Regions from separate parts of the Homo sapiens genome. Here region 2 is linked to region 1. Evidence: fine-mapped expression QTL. A gene starts in region 1. The other region holds a variant in brackets. All regions are shown on one strand. Distances are from middle to middle. Region 1 holds the start of RAB13 (RAB13, member RAS oncogene family). Region 2 overlaps GATAD2B (GATA zinc finger domain containing 2B).

The links.
Region 2: its variant is fine-mapped to the expression of RAB13 in whole blood (TOPMed, PIP above 0.99). The same link has a PIP of 0.9 or more in monocytes.

Annotation. Positions count from the first base shown.
Region 1 is chr1:153,979,612-153,991,100 of GRCh38, forward strand. RAB13 (RAB13, member RAS oncogene family) reads right to left here and starts at 6,728. Exons shown (of 8, transcript NM_002870.5): 1 at 6,502-6,728; 2 at 5,110-5,170; 3 at 3,910-3,970; 4 at 3,608-3,685; 5 at 3,108-3,197; 6 at 2,924-2,989; 7 at 2,780-2,833; 8 at 2,039-2,565. The coding sequence starts at 6,625. The coding sequence ends at 2,488. RPS27 (ribosomal protein S27) reads left to right here and starts at 11,151. Exons shown (of 4, transcript NM_001030.6): 1 at 11,151-11,191. The coding sequence starts at 11,186. RefSeq lists enhancers at 5,787-6,016, 6,330-6,831, 10,876-11,489, 11,032-11,391, 11,089-11,489 and a silencer at 6,643-6,812.
Region 2 is chr1:153,875,504-153,883,503 of GRCh38, forward strand. The region is part of intron 1 of GATAD2B (GATA zinc finger domain containing 2B); the gene reads right to left. Among named protein-coding and RNA genes, the nearest start is that of GATAD2B, 43 kb to the right of the region's middle. RefSeq lists a silencer at 5,530-5,824. The variant A/G (reference allele first, on the strand shown) is at 4,763.

The DNA of each region.
Region 1 (11,489 bases):
CTTGGATACTTACATTTATCAAGTTATTACATTTTGCTGTGTAAAAAATATTATGTATGGTGAAAGGGGGATATATATATATTATGTATTAAAATATGTATTATATATTATATATTAAACATAATATAATTATATATAATTATATATTAAACATAATATATTATATATTAAATATATAATTATAATATATATTTAATATATATGTATAATATATAATTATATATTATATATAATATGTTATATGTTTATAAACATATACATGTTATATATATTATATATTTCCTATATATTTAATATATAATATATATAATTATACATTGTAATATATAATATAATATAATATATATATACTTAAGGATGCTGTGCATCAAGCCTGAATTTTTTTTTTTTTTTTGAGATGGAGTTTCGCTCTGTCTCCAGGCTGGAGTGTAATGGTGCGAACTCTGCTCACAGTAACCTCTGCCTCCTAGGTTCAAGCGATTCTCCTCCCTCAGCCTCCCAAGTAGCTGGTATTACAGGCACCCACCACCATGCCCAGCTAATTTTTTTTGTATTTTTAGTAGAGATGGGGTTTCGCCATGTTGGCCAGGCTGGTCTCAAACTCCCAACCTGAAGTGATCCACCCACCTCGGCCTCCCAAAGTGCTGGGACTACAGGCATGAAACAACGTGCTCGGCCCAAGCCTGAATTTTCTTTTGCATTTCCAGTAGTTTTGCCATCTTTGTTATTCAGCAAAGAGATGTTTTTGTTTTCGTTTTTGTTTTTTTGAGACAGAGTCTGGCTGTGTCACCCAGGCTGGAGTGCAGTGGTGTGATCTCAACTCACTGCAACCTCTGCCTCCCAGGTTCAAGTGAGTCTCCTGCCTCAGCCTCCCAAGTAGCTGGGACTACAGGCGCCCTCCACCACTCCTGTCTAATTTTTTTTTTTTTTTGTATTTTTAGTAGAGACGGGGTTTCACTATGCTGGCCAGGCTGGTCTTGAACTCCTGTTGTGATCCACCACGCCCAGCCAAAGAGCTGTTTTTGTTAAAGTTTGCTTGTCCCAGGCTGGGCGCAGTGGCTCACGCCTGTAACCCCAGCACTTTGGGAGACTGAGGCAGACTGATCACTCGAGCCCAGGCGTTCAAGACCAGCCTGGCCAACATGACAAAACCCTGTCTCCACTAAAAACACAAAAGTTAGCCAGGTGTGGTGGCACGTGCCTGTAATCCCAGCTACTCGGGAGGCTGAGGCAGGAGAATCGCTTGAACCCGGGAGGCAGAGGTTGCAGTGAGCTGGGATCGTGCCACTGCACTCCAGTCTGGGCGACAGAGCCACACTCGGTCTTAAAAAAGAAAAAAAGTCCTTGTCCCTCTGCTTGTAAGTACCACCAAAGGGCTATATTAACTGACTATTGGCCAGGCATGGTGGCTCACGCCTGTAATCCCAGCTACTTGAGAGGCTGAGGCAGGAGGCAGAGGTTGCAGTGAGCTGAGATCGCACTATTGCACTCCAGCCTCGGAGACAGAGCAAGACTCTGTCCCTAAAAATAAATGAATAAATAAATAAAATAACTGACCATTGTGCCTGGCACTTAGTAGATGCTCAATATACATATATGAATAAATGAACTTCTCATTTTCCTCACTAATAAAAGCAGATATTAATGCCTATCAAATAACTAAATGGATTGCTGGCAGAATCAAAGAAGCTTGCACAAATCACTGGATAAATCACTAGGTGCAGTTATTTCCCTGAGGCTAGGACTGTTAGAGTTCTTCTCGCTGGGAATTTCCTGTGCTCAGGACAAGGCTCTGCCCACAAGGGCATCCGGACCCCATGGCGGAAAGAGGATATCCAGACCTTCAGATCACTCTACCTCCTGCTCTTTGCTATTTTCCTTACCAACAGAACAGCTAGGGAAGAGACAGCAGTAGGATTAGTCCTGGTTCCACAGAAACCGAGCCTGATTTGGGTAAATCAATCACTTTGAAGACACAATAATTGGATTTGAGTGGAGAACAATTCTGACAATAATCCAAGTTACCCAAAACAGGAACATTTGTGCAAATGGTGGCCTTTAATACCAAGAAAGACCATGACAAGTGACAGAACAGGAGCAAATTCCCTAGTGTAGTGCCGAGCTAGCCTTTTGCAGGACCCTAAAACCTGATCTAGTAACAGAATAAATCAGTGTATTTACATTTATGTTTGCCCTGAAAACCCAGGTAAGGTCTGAAGCCTGAGGCATCTCTCCTTCCTTTCCTCCTCCCTCTCTTCCTACCTCCTTGCCTTCTTTCACTTCCTCAATTCATTCCTCTCCCTTCTCCCTTCCTCTCTCTTCCTTTTTTTCCTTTCTGCTTTTCCCTTTTCTCCTTTTTCTCCTCATTCTCTTTACCATCTACCTATGTGACCCTCCAAGCCCCTCTGCTATTTCTCCCCTGCTCACTCCCTCTGCCGTTGTCTCCCTCAGGTTCAGCTTCCGGGGTGGGGAGGCAAGAAAGGGTCCTCAGCCCAGGGAGCACTTGTTGGTGTTCTTCTTGTCACAAGTTTTCAGGTCAGTACTGGGAGGCTTGTTGCCGTTTCCCTAGAGGGAGAAGGGCACAGGTGTCATGGTGTGAATGGATGGTTAGGGTAGGAGGGTATAAACTGTTTAAAGTAAATCCACCCTCATGAGAAATCTTAGCATTGCTCCCCGTTTTTATCAACACCAACACACACACACACACACACACACACACACACATACATACACACACACACACCCCAGAGTTGTACCTAGTCCAGCAAAACCAACTTACTGATCTCCGGCCTCCTGACTTGAGCAAGATGTCCCGGGCCAGGGAACTAAAAGCCTAAAGTGGGGAACAGAGTCAGTTTGGAGGGAGGAGAATCTACCTTCTAATACTTCCTCTCTTGGTCGGGGATGGGGGTGTGGATCTCACCTCATCCACATTCATACTGGATTTAGCACTAGTTTCGAAAAATCGGATTCCATGCTCTCGAGCCAACTATAAGGGGTGAAGTGGGAAGAGAATTGAATTAAGGACAGCAGCCAAGTCCTCTGCAATGCAACCTATCTTGGCCCTCCCAGCCCAGTTCTAGAACATTGCTCAGCCTGGCCCTCACCTTATCGGCCTGCTCCTTCTGCACCTTCCTCTTGGCCTCCATGTCACATTTGTTCCCCAGCAAGAGGCGCTCCACCCCAGCCGAGGCATTCTGGGGGCAAAAGACAAGTAAAAGTTAGGTCCTGCCGGCTGGGAGCGGTGGCTCACGCCTGTAATCCCAGCACTTTGGGAGGCCAAGGCGGGTGGATCACCTGATGCAGGAGTTCAAGATCAGCCTGACCAACATGGAGAAAACCCGTCTCTACTAAAAATGCAAAATTAGCCGAGCATGGTGGTGCATGCCTGTAATCCCAGCTACTTGGGAGGCTGAGGCAGGAAAATCGTTTGAACCTGGGAGGCAGAGGTTGCAGTGAGCCGAGATCCTGCCATTGCACTCCAGCCCGGGCAACAAGAGCAAAACTTCATCTCAAAAAAAAAAAAGTTAGGTCTTGCCTATCCTGATGGACCCCTTCATTCTCCAGGTTCTAACCAGTTTCCCCATCTCTTTTGGAGGGTCCTCACCTCCTTGATGCTTTTCATCCAGTTCTGAATATTCTCGAAAGATTTCTCATCCGTGATGTCGTATACTAGGATAATGCCCTGGGAGATGACAAAATTCACCTTGGACCATGTTCCCATTGAGGCTTCCCACTGCCCTGTAAGTGACCCCGCATCCATGGGTCTAAACACTAGGCCATGTTGGGCCCTCTGCAACCCACACTGCACCCCTCCCATTTTTACCTGCCCCAACCCCTGACCCTTTGTATTCATAATATATTCTGTAGCCTCATCCTTCATCCTTTGTTCAGACCCACACTTCATACCATGGCTCCACGGTAGTAGGCAGTAGTTATTGTCTTGAACCGCTCTTGGCCAGCCGTGTCCCTAAAGAAGGAGAAGTTTTCATGGGATGGAATAGAGGGAAGAATTCTCCAACGGAATAATTCTTCCTCTCTCACAAGAATTTAGCTTTTGTAACATGGTGGGGCAACAGAATAAGGAAACAGTAAAGGGGAACGGGATTAAAGACAGTTGAGCTGATTTCCAGAGATGGTAGTGGCCCAAGAAACAAGATGTCTTTGCTTATTCATTGAATGTTTGCTATGTGTCAAGCACTGTGTATGTATCATTTTATCTAATCCTTACTCTTTCCTTGTAAGACATGTATTATTGTCTCTATTTTAAAAATGAGGAAACACGCCAGGTGCCGTGGCTTGCGTCTATAATCCCAACACTTTGGGAGGCTGAGGCGGGTGGATCACCTGAGGTCAGGAGTTCAAGACCAGCCTGGCCAACATGGTGAAACCTCGTCTCTACTAAAAATACAAAAATTAGCCCGGCCTAGTGGCGGGCGCCTGTAATCCCAGCTACTTGGGAGGCTGAGGTCGGAGAATCACTTGAACCCAGGAGGCGGAGGTTAAAGTGAGCCTAGATTGTGCCATTGCACTCCAGCCTGGGTGACAAGAGCAAAACTCTGTCTCAAAAAAAAAAAAAAAAAAAAAAGAGGAAACAGATTTGGATAGGCTGAATAATTAATGAAGGTCAGGCAGGAGATAACTAAAAGAACCAGATTTGCGCACCAGTCTGCTCTTATATGTCATAGCATAATGCCTCCACTAAGCTTCATACCACTTAAACACCTTCAGGGTCTATATTTGGCTCTCTGGGCTCACCATATTTTGGAGAAAACACTAGACTTAGAGTCAAGTCTTAATTCTGCCTTTGCCATTTAACTGCTCACAGCCTGTTTCCATGTTATGACTGAACAGTTGTTTGTTGTCAAATTAAGAGGATGCTCTGCAGCCAGAGGAGGCAAGAGTTACAAAAGAGTTGGAACTAGTTGGGAGAGCAGGAAGAGAGATGGAAGGACAGCTGAGTGCATCCGGAGAAATGCCAGAAGTGCTCCTTCTAGCACTTCTAGAAGGAGCAATGGGGAAAGGAAGAGAAATGAAACAAAATAGAAGGAAAAACGTGTAGGAGGTAAATGGGGAAGTCTGGCGAGGCATCCCAGAGGACTGACTTACCAGACTTGTAGTTTGATCTTCTTCCCCTCTATATCCACAGTGCGGATCTTGAAATCAATTCCTAGGGGTGGAAGGTATGCACTGAAGTTGAGACATGCATGCACACATGTAAAACTGTGTGATGGAAGGGACAGGAACGGAGCAGTGCTGGCACCAGAAATTCTGCAGGGGAGGCACTTGGGGAACAATCTTGTTGGAAATGCCAAGCTAGGAGAATTTTCCCAAAGCTGTATTTGTATAGCAAGAATACTATTTTTACGTACATTTTATGGATTTTGGGAGGGAAAAGGTGACGAAAATTCTGCATGGAGGCTTAAAATCCTTAGGCTGCCTCTTGGGTCCATTCAGTTATACCAGCTGACAACTCTCTGAATTCAGTCTCTGTCTCCCCCCAGATATTACTTTCACATTCCTCTTCTCTGTTTTCTTAGAGCCCTCTACTCTTGGTATCCCACCTACCCTCCTAGTAGAGAGTAAGGAAAAAAGTAGCTGAAGCCAGTCTATGTGAATTAACTAGTGGGCCAAACTTGGCACTAGGAAAGTCTGAGGCTAAACAGGATTACTTTTGAGACAATTAGGAAAGAGGGGCATTTTTCCTTTTCCTTTGTAACCAGAATTGTCGTGAGACTCTTCCTGTCTATTTCCCAAGCCAGAGGAGATGAAGAAAGAAGAGAAGGGAGGAGGGGAGACAATGTTCTTCTTAGTAGAAACTTGGGCACCTCCCCCAAGCCTGCTGGGGGCCCCTGGGAGGAGGATGAGTCACCAGGCTGACTCAGAGACCCCAAAAGTCCCCTCATTTCCACGTTCCTCACCAAGCTGGCTGCATATTCATGATCACAGTCCTTGGGCCACCCTCCAGCACACCCAGCCACCTTGTTCCACCCTTCCCAAACCCTTGTTCAGCTGAGGTGCAGGGAGACTGGGGCAGGGAACCTGGGAAGTAGATGGTGAGGTGGGGACACAGTGGGAGAGTTTGAAGCTCAGCAAGACAGAAAGAGGCTAGCATCGGATCGGGAGAAAAAGATGTGGCGGACAGGGATACAGGAAACATGGAGATAGGATCGAGAGAGTTCTAGGTGGTGGGGGTAGGGGAAGAGGGGAACAGAGAAAAATAGAGAAGAGTTCTTGTGGATTTGGGGAGACTAAGGCGATGGTACCAAGAAAATGAGGAGCTGGCAGCAGTTGAAGAGTTACCTGAAGGCCTCAGAGAGGTGAGAGGTTTGGTTACTATACAGAGACATGCACGGGGGAAGGGTCAGAGCCAGGGGTTGAGGGACTAGAATTTAGGAGCCTTACTCTAAGGGGACTGAAAAGTGGGGTCACTAGTAATCCGGGAGCCGGAGAAGGAGGTCACAGGAGAGTCGGGGTCTGGGACATGGCCAGCGGGCTCACCGATGGTGGAGATGTAAGTGTTGTTGAAGTTGTCCTCTGCAAAGCGAATGATCAGACAAGTCTTGCCCACCCCCGAGTCCCCGATCAGCAGCAACTTGAAGAGGTGGTCGTAGGCTTTGGCCATGGCGGACACCGGGGGAGCCGGGGGAGGGGTGGGGAGCGCCCGGCACTGGTAGGCGGGACTGGACGGTTGGCAAACAGAGCGGCACGGAGCCCAGGCCAGGAAGAAGTTTTCCTCCCTCTCCGCCCAGGCTCCGGGAAAGAGGAGAGGCGGCACCCCTCCGGGCTCCACCCCCTGCCCGCCCACCCTTTTGAGCAGGCCAAGGCTGCCAGCCCGGCCTCTGTTCTCTCGGTTTTCCCTTCCTAGCTTAGGCCGGCCTGTCTCTCTCGCTATTTTCCACAGCCTTTCGGTAATTGTAGCTCCCCTCTTAGGACCTTACTCTTCCATTCTGAGGCCAGAGAGGCTGGGGTGAAGGGAAGTAGAGGTTTAACCACGACGACCAGAAATTTTAGAAGAGAAATTTTAGAGGGATTAGGGGAAGAGAACCAAGAGTTTTGGGAATAAGGGTGAAGGTAGGGAGAGCACTAGAAATTGAAAAAAAAAAATGGGGCTGAGTTTTGGAGATGCTATTCAACGAAGCTAGAAGATGAGTTATCATCGGTTTCTGGGGCTGAGTAAAAGGCAGTCCTAGAATTTTACTGTTAGTTGTCCAAGCCCTTAGTTCTATGGGTCCCAATTCACTTTGAAAAAAGCGGGATGCGCAGAAGTAGGTTATTTGTTGAGTCAGTCTGCCCCCTGGTGGAACAGGGTGAAAACGTAAATTAGTTATACAGAATCGGCCCCACCACCCCAACACACACAGCCTACCTAGACACATCCTGGGGCTTCAGTTGGAACGATCTCTCTTATGGGGACCCATGTGTGATTTCTCTGACCAAATAGCTTAGGAAAACAGAGATTTGAACTAAAAATGTCATTCTTTACGTGAATCTTTTAATATGGCCCACTTAAGGTGCAGTACTCCTGAAATCTCACTCAATAGGCCATGAATGTGTAGCCTTGGTAACCAGGAAGCTGAAATATGAACAGCACGGGTATAAAGAAACAAGTTTGCCGGGCGCGGTGGCTCACGCCTGTAATCCCAGCACTTTGGGAGGCCGAGGCGGGCGGATCACGAGGTCAGGAGATCGAGACCATCCTGGCTAACATGGTGAAACCCCATCTCTACTAAAAATACACACACACACACAAAATTAGCCGGGCGTGGTGGCAGGCGACTGTAGTCCTAGCCACTTGGGAGGCTGAGGCAGGAGAATGGCGTGAACCCGGGAGGCAGAGCTTGCAGTGAGCCGAGATTGCGCCACTGCACTCCAGCTTGGGCGACAGAGCCAGACTCCGTCTCAAAAAAAAAAAAAAAAGAAAGAAAGAAAGAGAGTAAAAGAGAAACAAGTTTATCTCTGCCTTTAGAAAAAAATTATTCTTGCTATATGTGTGCTGGGGGTGGAAAAAAATACGAAACACGAAAGAAAGAAAATATTATCTAAGACCTGTTGCGGTGGCTCACACTTGTAATCCCAGCACTTTGGGAGGCCAACGTGAGAGGATCCCTTAAGCCCAGGAGTTCAAGACCAGCTTGGGCAACATAGTGAGACTGCTTCGACAAAAAAAAAAAAAAAAAAAAAAAAAAATTAGCCATACATGGTGGTGTGGCCTGTAGTCCCAGCCGCAGCTACTTGGGGGACAGAAGTGGGCAGAACACTTGAGCCCAAGAGTCCAAGGCTGTAGTGAGCCACGATTATGATGCCACTGCTCTCCAGCCTCGGTGATAGAGTAAGATCCTGTTTCAAAAAAATTTTTTATTTATTTTTTAATTAATTAATTAATTTTTTTGAGACAGAGTCTTGCTCTGTCGCCAGGCTGGAGTGCAGTGGCGCAATCTCGGCTCACTGCAACCTCCGCCTCCCGAATTCAAGCGATTCTTGTGCCTCAGCCTCTGGAGTACCTGTAATCCTCTGGGATTACAGGTGCCCGACACCACGCCCAGCTAATTTTTGTATTTTTAGTAGAGATGGGGTTTCACCATGTTGGCCAGATGGTCTCGATCTCTTGACCTTCTGATCCGCCCGCCTCGGCCTCCCAAAGTGCTGGGATTACAGTCGTGAGCCACCACGCCTGGCCCTATTTTTTTTTTTTTTTTGAGACGGAGTCTTGCTCTGTCGACCTAGGCTGGGGTGCAGTGGCGCGATCTCGGTTCACTGCAAGCTCCGCCTCCTGGGTTCACGCCATTCTCCCGCCTCAGCCTCCTGAGTAGCTGGGACTACAGGCGCCCGCCACCACCCGGCTAATTTTTTGTATTTTAGGGAGAGACGGGGTTTCACCGTGTTAGCCAGGATGGTTTTGATCTCCTGACCTCGTGATCTGCCCGCCTTGGCCTCCCAAAGTGCTGGGTTTACAGGCGTAAGCCACCGCGCCCGGCCTATTTTTATTTTTATTTTTTTAATTTTTATTGTTTATTTTGAGGTGGAGTTTCGCTCTTGTTGCGTAGGCTGGGGTGCAATGGTGTGATCTGGGCTAACCGCAGCTTCCGCCTCCCTGGTTCAAGCGATTCTCCTGCCTCAGCCTCGCGAGTAGCTGAAATTACAGACACCCGCACTACCCCCTGCTAATTTTGTATTTTTAGTAGAGACGAGCTTTCTCCATGTTGGTCAGGCTGCTCTCGAACTCCCGACCTCAGGTGATCCACCCACCTCTGCCTCCCAAAGGCCTGGGATTACAGGCGTGAGCCACTGCGCCCAACCTTTGTTTTTACTTTTATTTTATTTTTTGAGACAAAGTTTTGCTCGTCACCCAGGCAGAAGTGCAATGGCTCAATCTCTGGTCACTGCAACCTCCGCCTCTTGGGTTCAAGCGATTCTCCAGCCTCAGCTTCCCGAGTAGCTGGGATTACAGGCGCCTGCCACGACGCCCAGCTAAATTTTTTTTTTTTTTTTTTTTTTTTAGTCGAGACGGGGTTTCACCATGTTGGCCACGCTGGTCTCGAACTCCCGACGTCACGTGATCCGCCCGCCTCAGCCTCCCAAAGTGCTGGGATTACAGGCCTGAGCCACCGCGACCGGCAAAGAAAAAATTATTATTATTATTATTATTATTATTTGAGACGGAGTCTCGCTCTGTCGCCCAGGCTGCAGTGCAGCGGCGCGATCTCCGCTCACTGCAAGCTCCGCCTCCCGGGTTCACGCCATTCTCCTGTCTCAGCCTCCCGAGTAGCTGGGACTACAGGCGCCCGCCACCGCGCCCGGCTAATTTTTTGTATTTTTAGTAGAGGCGGGGTTTCACCGTGCTAGCCAGGATGGTCTCGATCTCCTAACCTCGTGATCCACCCGCCTCGGCCTCCCAAAGTGCTGGGATTACAGGCGTGAGCCACGGCGCCCGGGCAAGAAAAAATTATTCAAGGGAGTCTCTCTCGAGCCTATTCTGGCTGCCTATAAAAAATTAAAGGCCGGACGCGGTGTCTCACGCCTGTATTCTCAGCACTTTGGGAGACCGAGGCAGGTGGATCACGTGAGGTCGGGAGTTCAATACCAGCTTGGCCAACATGGTGAAACCCCGTCTCTACTAAAAATACAAAATTAGCCGGGCATGGTGCCGCATGCCTGTAATCCCAGCTACTCGGGAGGCTGAGGCAGGAGAATCGCTTGAACGCGGGAGGCGGAGGTTGTGGTGAGCCGAGATGGCGCCATCACACTACAGCCTGGGCAACAAGAGCAAAACTGTGTCTAAAAAAAAAATAAAAATAAAAATAAAAAAAAAGAAGGCATCTTTCACTTATCCCCATCACCTTCCGTGTCCATGCTTGTCCCTTCTCAAGCTAAACTATTCAATCTCTTTTTGTCCATTCTCTCACCTCTCATTATCTCCTTGAGTCTTCCCTATTTCTTTTCACTGACCAAACCATGTCTCCCCTGTTTATTTATTTATTTAAGACAGAGTCTTGTTCTGTCACCCAGGCTGGAGTGGATCTCGGCTCACTGTACTTCCGCCTCCCAGGTTCATGCGATTCTCCTGCCTCAGCCTCCAGAGTAGCTGGGATTACAGGCACACGCCACCACGCCTGGCTAATTTTCGTATTTTTAGTAGAGACGGGGTTTCACTATGTTGGCCAGGCTGGTCTTGAACTGCTGACCTCAGGTGATCCACCCGCCTTGGCCTCCCTAAGTGCTGGGATTACAGGCATGAGCCACTGCGCCCGGCCTAAACTGTTAAATTAAACCAATAGAAAAAGAGTTAAGAATATAGGTATTTAAAAAATAGGACGGAAGTCCTGGATATGGCTCCTTCTCCCTGGTGTTTTCCTCAACCTTTCCTATTTATTAGGCTCCAACTGTCAAGGTATGGCACAAAATTTTAAAAGTGTCCATTTATCCCTGGATAGTGATCAAACGCTGACCTCAAATTAGCAAGGTAACCCTCTCAACATGGTGACGCATATGTGTCACAACTAACAGTTAAAGACCTTCCGAAAATGGCAGCTCCCTTGTCTCCCCACTGCGGCGGATCAAAGTAAGACGTTCCAAACATGGTGGCACAAGATCCTTGCGTCATTTCCTGTAGTGTGCTCTATATAAGGGGCAGGATTTCCGCTTTCGCTCCTTTCCGGCGGTGACGACCTACGCACACGAGAACATGCCTGTGAGTGCTTTGGTCCAGGTTTCGGCGGAGATCTCGCTGTTCTGTCCGAACTCTCCCCTCACGCTGATTTCGGATCGTAGAGGGTCCTCATTTACCCTCTGCACTTCTTAGGACATTAACTCCAGGGACCGCAGCGGCCCACGGGCCACCCGCATAGACGGGAGCGGAGAGGAGATAAGATGGCGGCCCAGCTGCGCAGACACCAGGGGCGGCGAGGGGCGAGCTCTCCCCGGTGTGTGACAGTGGGGGCTATTTTCGACCATCCCATTTTCGCTGTTGGTTTCTAAATCTCTGCATT
Region 2 (8,000 bases), 110 kb before region 1:
TGTAAAGGACCAGATAATAACATTTTAGACTTTGTGGGGCAAGTACTAAACTCTGCTTTTGTAAGCAAGTGGGTGTGGCTGTGTTTCAACAAAATTTCATTTACCAAAACAAGCAGCAGCTATAGTTTGCTGACTCCTGATCTTGATACAGGTCAATAGACCTACCACGAGTTTGGAGGGAAAAAAAAAAAAAAAAAAAAAAGGTAGCCACAAGCTGGCTAAAATAAACTAGTAAGAACAATGAAAATAGTATAAACAAACCCAACAGACAGGAATATCTATCTTGCTAACATTCACTGAGCTCTTACTATGTGCTAGGCATTGCGCTAAAGTGCTTCACAATGCATTATCTCATTTAGAACCTCTGGAGATATAATTATCCTCCTGTTAGAGAGAAAAGAAAAACAGATAAACTGAGTAACTTCATACGATTTCACAGTCCAGGCCAGGCACAGTGGCTCATGCCTGTAATCCCAGCACTTTGAGAGGCCAAAGCAGGCGGATCATGAGGTCAGGAGTTCCAGATCAGCGTGGCCAATATGGTGAAACCCCGCCTCTACTAAAAAATACAAAAATTAGCTGGGTGTGGTGGCGCATGCCTGTAGTCCCAGCTACTCAGTAGGCTGAGGCAGGAGAATCGCTTGAACCCGGGAGGCGGAGACTGCAGTGAGCTGAGATCGCGCCACTACACTCCAGCCTGGGCAACACAGTGAGACTTCGTCTCAAAAAAAAAAAAAAAAAAAAAAAAAAAAAAAAAGATTTCACAGTCCTTAAATGGCTGGGCGTGGTTAAAACACAGGACTGTCTTACCTGAGTCAATGTCCTTAACCATCGTACTATGCTATCTATATTGTCATTTTTGGTTTCCGATCCAACCAGACTGGTAAGAGAGTAATTCTTATGAAAGACTATTACTGTTTACATGCTCTTACAGTGTCTTTTCTGTATCACTGAGTTTACTACACAAACCTTTGGCTCACATTCTTGAAAGAAAGAGCCTAGATGACCTTGCAGTGGGTAACATACTGCTCAGTAATATGCACCAAGGATTGTAAAGGTCGCTATGCTTAAATGTGACAAGTTAGAGTGTGCTGCCTAGAGGTAATGAACAGGAGGTAAACAGCTTTCTCCTACTGTCACCTTACAAATCAGCACAGAAGTTCTGACATACACGAAAGCAAATGTGCCAGACAATCATTTAGAAAAGGTGATATGAGAGGTCAGGGCGGTGGCTCATGCCTATAATCCCAATACTTTGGGAGGCCAAGGCGGGCAGATCACCTGAGGACAGGAGTTTGAGACCAGCCTGGCCAACATGGTGAAACCCCGTCTCTACTAAAAATACAAAAATTAGCTGGGCATGGTGGCAGGCGCCTGTAATTTCAGCTACTCGGGAGGCTGAGGCAGGAGAATCACTCGAACCTGGTGAGGGGAGGGCGGCGGGTGGAGGTTACAGTGAGCCAAGATCGTGCCACTTCACTCCAGCCTGGGTGAAAGGCGAGACTCCGCCTCAAAAAAGAAAAGAAGAACAGGCAGTATTAGAGTGAAAGGTTCTTTGCATTGGCCCATGCCTATAATCCCAGCACTTTGGGGGGCTAAGGCAGAAGGACTGCTTAAGGCCAGGAGTTTGAGACCAGCCTGGGAAAAACAGTGAGCCTCTGTCTCTACCAAAAATAATAATAATGAAATTAGCCAGGCATGGTGACATGCCTATAGTCAGTCCTAGCTACTTGGGAGGCTGGGGCAAAAGGATCACTTGAGCCCAGGAGTTCAAGGCTGCAGTGTGCTATGATCACACTACTGCACTCCAGCCTGGGCAACAGAGTGAGACCCTGTCTCTAATAAATAAATAGAATTAAAGGGACAGACGTGGCCAAAGGGCAGATTTCACATACACTTCAAAATTACTCTTCAGCCACTCCAAAACAGCAATTAAGGCCTATGAGAGTTAAGAAAAAAAAAAAAATTTCTCATCTATCCTTTAAGAGAAGGTACTGGTTTATGCCTTGCTGATTATGACTACATAATCACTAAGATTATCCTCACTAATCTGGCTCCTAACATCAAGAGAAAAGGTAAAAATAAAGGATATAGCTGGACATGGTGGCTCATGCCTGTAATCCCAGCACTTTGGGAGGCTGAGGTGGGGCAACTGCTTGAGCTCAAGAGTTCCAGACCAGCCTGACCAACATGGTGAAACCTCGTCTCTACTAAAAATACGAAAATTAGCCGGGTGTGGTGGCACATGCTTATAATCCCAGCTACCTGGGAGGCTGAGGTGGGAGGATCACTTGAATCCAGGAGGCAGAGGCTGCAGTGAGCTGAGATCATGCCACTGCACTCCAGCCTGGGCAACAGAGTGAGACTCCATCTCAAAAAAACTTAAAAAAAAAAAAAAAAAAGGGTAATTATTACTTCTAAGAACTAGGTAATCCCACAACAACAATGAATGAATCTTTACCTAGCCTCTAGGTTGTAGCAAGTTTGGTCTGTTGCTATTTTGTCTTTCAGTACTCAACAGACTAGGAAATAATACTCCTTAGTTTACTTATAAAGGGACTTAGAAAAGTAGGCTCCAGCTCCTTGGGGTGGGGAAATAATTGCAGGCAGCCTGGGGAATAAGCAGAACAACCATTGTGGTAGGTCCCATCCTGCAATCTTTTTTTTTTTTTCTTTTTTTTTTGAGACAGGGTCTCACTTTGTTTTCCAGGCTAGAGTGCAGTGGTGCAATCATGGCTCACTGCAGCCTCCCACCCCAGCCTCCCGAGTAGCTAGGACCACAGGCACATGCCACGACTAATTTTTTGTAAAGATGGAATCTCCCTATGTTGCCCAGGCTGGTCTCAAACTCCTGAGCTCAAGCAATTCTGCGATGGTCTCCCAAGGTGCTGGGATTACGGCTGTGAGCCACTGTGACCAGCTCATCCTACAATCCTTAAAGAAAGTAATAACCTCATATTCACTTCCTAACAAAAGGAAAAAAAGCACAGATATTAACACCAAAAAATACAGACGTTCAAAGACTATTGCTTGTAAAGATGTGGCAAGAAGAGAAATTTACAGGCTTTAACAAAAATATACAAGTTCCCAATCAAATTAAGGAATTTCCTCTAGACTGCAACCTGATAAAAACTCTTACTACAGGATTAACGAGTTTGAAAGTTCCCTCTCATTCCCAACTCTCCCCATCAGTGCTGTTATTCTGAATGGTCAGAAGCAAAAATAAACTCACATAAAACCAACTGTAACAGTGTGACCCATACTTTATTCCTTTTTTTTTTTTTTTTTTTTTGAGACAGAGTATTGCTGTGTCGCCCAGGCTGGAGTGCAGTGGTGCAATCTAGGCTCACTGCAACCTCCACCTCCCAGGTTCAAGAAATTCTTCTGCCTCAGGCTCCCGAGTAGTTGGGATTACAGGTGCCCACCACCATGCCTGGCTAATTTTTTTTTTTCTTGAGACAGTCTTGCTCTGTCGCCCAGGCTGAAAGTGCAGTGGTACGATCTTGGCTCACTGCAACCTCCGCCTCCCGGGTTCAAGCGATTCTCCTGCCTCAGCCTCCCGAGTAGCTGGGACTACAGGCGCAAGCCACCACGCCCGGCTAATTTTTTGTATTTTCAGTAAAGACAGGGTTTCACTGTCTTAGCCAGGATCGTCTCTTATCTCCTGACCTCGTGATCCGCCCGCCTCAGCCTCCCAAAGTGCTGGGATTACAGGCATGAGCCACCACACCTGGCCAATTTTTTTATTTTTAGTAGAGATAGGGTTTCACCTTGTTGGCCAGGCTGATCTCAAACTCCTGACCTCATGTGATCCACCCACCTCGGCCTCCCAAAGTGCTGGGATTACAGGCATGAGCCACCGCTCTCGGCCCCATACTTTATTCTTTAATATACTTTCTCATTTTCACCTAACACAAAAGCTGCTTCATAAATATCACACCTAGGAGGCACATAAAGAGAATTTAAGAAAAGACATCAGGCCGGGTGCAGTGGCTCACGCCTGTAATCCCAGAACTATGGGAAGTCAAGACGGGCGGATTATGAGGTCAAGAGATCGAGACCATCCTGGCCAACATGGTAAAAACCCCGTCTCTACTAAAAATACAAAAATTAGCTGGGCATGGTGGCGCAGGCCTGTAGTCCCAACTACTCAGGAGGCTGAGGCAGGAGAATCGCTTGAACCCAGGAGTCGGAGGTTGCAGCGAGCCAACAATGCGCCACTGCACTCCAGCCTGGCAACAGAGCGAGACACTGTCTACAAAAAAAAAAAAAAAAAAAAAGACATCATACTAAACTGAGCAGAATTATAATTTCTAAATGAATGCTGATCCCCTAATTGCCAATGAAAGACACAATCACTACAACTGAACCCCAAAATTGTAACACTTGCAATGCATGGACACTTAGAACAATCTCTAATTTTTCCTTCCTTCCATGTGCTGTTTGACTGTCCTTTTGTACAATTCTAACTCTGGCAGATGGCAGGGAAAGAATACCGCATTTTGATAATATCATACTAAACAGAAAAGAAGAAATAAAAAAGAAGGGGGAGTCTCGAATGAGTAGTTAATAGATATTACTTGCTCTATTATCTGGCTTTTTGCTTCTCCTTAAGAACAACCCCTCTCCCCCACCCACCCCTGTACCCTTGGCAATTCTGAATGATTAGAAACAGTCGGCCAAGCGCAGTGGCTCACGCCTGTAATTCCAGCACCGTGGGGGCCGAGGCAGGTGGATGACTTGAGGTCAGGAGATCGAGACC[A/G]GCCTGACCAACATGGTGAAACCCTGTCTCTACTAAAAAAAAATTACAAAAATTAGCCGGGTGTGGTGGTGGGCACCTGTAATCTCAGCTTCTCGGGAGGCAGAGGCACAAAAATCACTTGAACCTGGGAGGCAGGGGTTGCAATGAGCAAAGATCACACCACTGCACTCCAGCCTGGGCTACCAAGTGAGACTGTCAAAAACAAAAACAAAAACAAAAAACAAAAAAGCCACACAATGTGGCCTGTCCCCTGCCTCCTTGCTCCTCACCCCTAAGTATCTTAACAAACTACAGCTGTAAAATCCAGGAGGCATTTCTCTTTTAATCATTCTTTTCTCAAGCACATACACCTTTGAATGGGAACAGAAAGAAGAGACCCACCAGCCTGGACAACACAGGAAGACCAAATTTCAATAAAAAATACAAAAATTAGCCAGGTGTGGTGGTACACGCCTGCAGTCCCAGCTACTCAAGAGGCTGAGTTGGGAGGATAGCTTGAACCCAGGAGGTCAAGGTTGCAGTGAGCCGTGATCACATCACTGCACTCCAGCTTGGGTGACAGAGACCCTGTCTCAAAAAAATAAAAAAATAAAAAAGGAGATCCAGGACAGTTACTACTTCTACTAGGAACATGGTCAATAACACTTGCACACAGAAGCTCTCTCGTTTTGCCACAACACAAATACCTTTTTCTTTCTAAGACAGCAAGGAAAAAAGTGTATGTGTGGATGTGTCAAAAGGGTATTTTTCTTGCTCTAAGCCTCCCCCCTCCCTCTCCTTGTCCATCAGCCCAAGCAAGCAGAGATGACGCAGACTTCCTTATATAATGGCCTGTGATTTCCTAGACTGCAGGCCTTTCCCTTTGTGTTCTGTATACACTTACACACACGAGCGCGCGCACATTCTCATTGCTTTGCAGCCCCTGGCATGATGCCAACACTCAGTCAGCTGGTTGACTCCATTCACAGAGCAGGGTTGGAGCTGACATGGAAAAGGGGAGGGGTAGAGAGGGTAAGGGGGAGGCTAGAACCATCACTGCTACAGACAAAAGAAATTTTAAAAAGGGGAGGAAGGAGAAAGAGAAAACCTTAATAAAACACTCTCCTTATTGCTTCAGCTTGAAGACAACTAGAAGCCAGAGACCCTTACCATTATAGCAAATGGATGAAGCAGAGGGAAAGAAGATCCAAACCGAAAGGAGCTTTGTATGAGAAACAATAATTCTGCAACAAATTTTTTTAAAGCAACAGTGTTTATTACTTCAATCCCATTAGAAACCTCAGCATATTACCTTCTACACATAGCCAAAAACTACTAGAAAGAACTCAGAAGAGATTTCGAGTTTCTGCTTTTAGCAAAGAAAAATAAGGATTGGGGAGGGCAAGACAGTTAAAACTACTTAGAGGTATACATTTTTCCGTTCCTTCCTCTAGCTTCCAGAAAAGTGAGAGAGATAAGAAATAGAGAAAGAGAACAGAAAAAGGAGGAAAATAATGAGATGGGTTTAGGTTTTTTTCGTGTGTGTGTGTGTGTGTGGAGGGTCGTGTGTGTGTGGAGGGTCCCCTTTCTTTCTCTGTTCTATCGTCTCTTTTCTACCGTAAGAGAAGCTCTTTCTGTAGCACAGAGGTGGCCCCCATGCGTGCCAGCCCCCTTGAGAGCCCTGCACAAACCCGGTCTCCAAGCGGGCACTGCCCTGCCAATCACATGGTGTACTGTTATATTAAACAAAAGAAACAGGGGGATGCTTACTTTTACCCATGATGCCTAGCGGGGACAGGAGGGAGGGAGAGAAAAACCAGTTGTAGCCGGTTTATAACCTCAGGACATGGAATTATCTCTTAATTTTTAAAAGTCATTTGTGGTACAAAAAAGTCTGTTAGTCTCCCCACCCTAACTATCCCCCCATCATTGCAGCCTAGTGCCAAACTTTGTCTTCATGAATGAGAGCTAGTTTCCTCTCAAATCATGATGCTTTAACTGTTTAGTTTCCAAAGCCAACATCCAAGATAGGAAATCACAGCATCAATACCAAAGCACACCCCAAATTATAACAAAATGAAGACATACTGCCCACCAAACTTCTTTTCTTTATCCCTATTGCTAGTGCTAGGGAACAGGTACTAATAAGACAGCAGGTGTATTCACTAATTTTTCTTTTTTCCTGAAGCTGTCCCACAGATAGGACATCTGATTTAACCCGATCCATTGACACCGTTCAGGGCAGCTGAATCCGCACCTAACACAAAGCATAGCAAGGTTTCACAGCAAAGTAGTCAAGACAGTACCCATGCATTCTTTAAAAACAGCTTAGGCCTTTGTTATGTATATTTTACTGCAATTTAAAAATTTTTTAATGCTTTAAGCCCAGCCATAGTATGATTGCAATATTATTCCACTTTCCTGTGTCATAGCTAGAACACTTTACTCTTTGCATTCTAGCACCTCCTCACCTACCACATCCCACTTACCACACACACATCCCTATGTCATTCTATAGACAAATCCAGATGCTAGACATACCTAAGCCTGGTCTCTGATTAACTTTCCCTTTCCTGTTTTAGAGCAACTTGTTCCAATCATTTTATAAGGACTTTTCACTTCCCCAAAGTGCTGATATGGGGTCAGAAAATAGTGGGGAAGAAATCTAAGTAAACCAAAGAGGAAGAAGGGCAATGGTAATTGTTTTCTTGGAGATCTATTGGCTGAGGACCTTTGCTCTAGGATCTTTCTCTATCTGATCAACTAGTTATAAATTGTAACAAGGAATAACAAGGGGGGAGGGATTTTCTTACTTTTCAACTGATATCTCCCATGAATATGTCATTCCAAATGCTTGCCTCATTTGGACCTCTGAAATTCACATCATAATTACTGCCTCCATCAGAGTCTCTCACAAAGCCCTTGTTCTCAAATATTAAAGTTTCTAGCAAACATGGAGAAAAATAATCTTCACCCTACGCAAAAATATTATTTCTAAATAAAAGTTTTCCTGAGCCATATAATATTAACTTCAATTTTCAGAAAACTAACACCGAGCTAAATCAAAACTAAGTAGTACTGGCCACTGGCATAAGAAATTCAACAATTTACAAACTACAAAGGAAAACCCTTTATCTACAACACAACATGAGCTTCAAGTGGTTGATACCGTACTATCTCAGTCACAATAAGGTCCTCTTAATAGGAGACCATCAGAGGTATCCAGATCTAGACACTGCTATCATTTTACAACATAAAG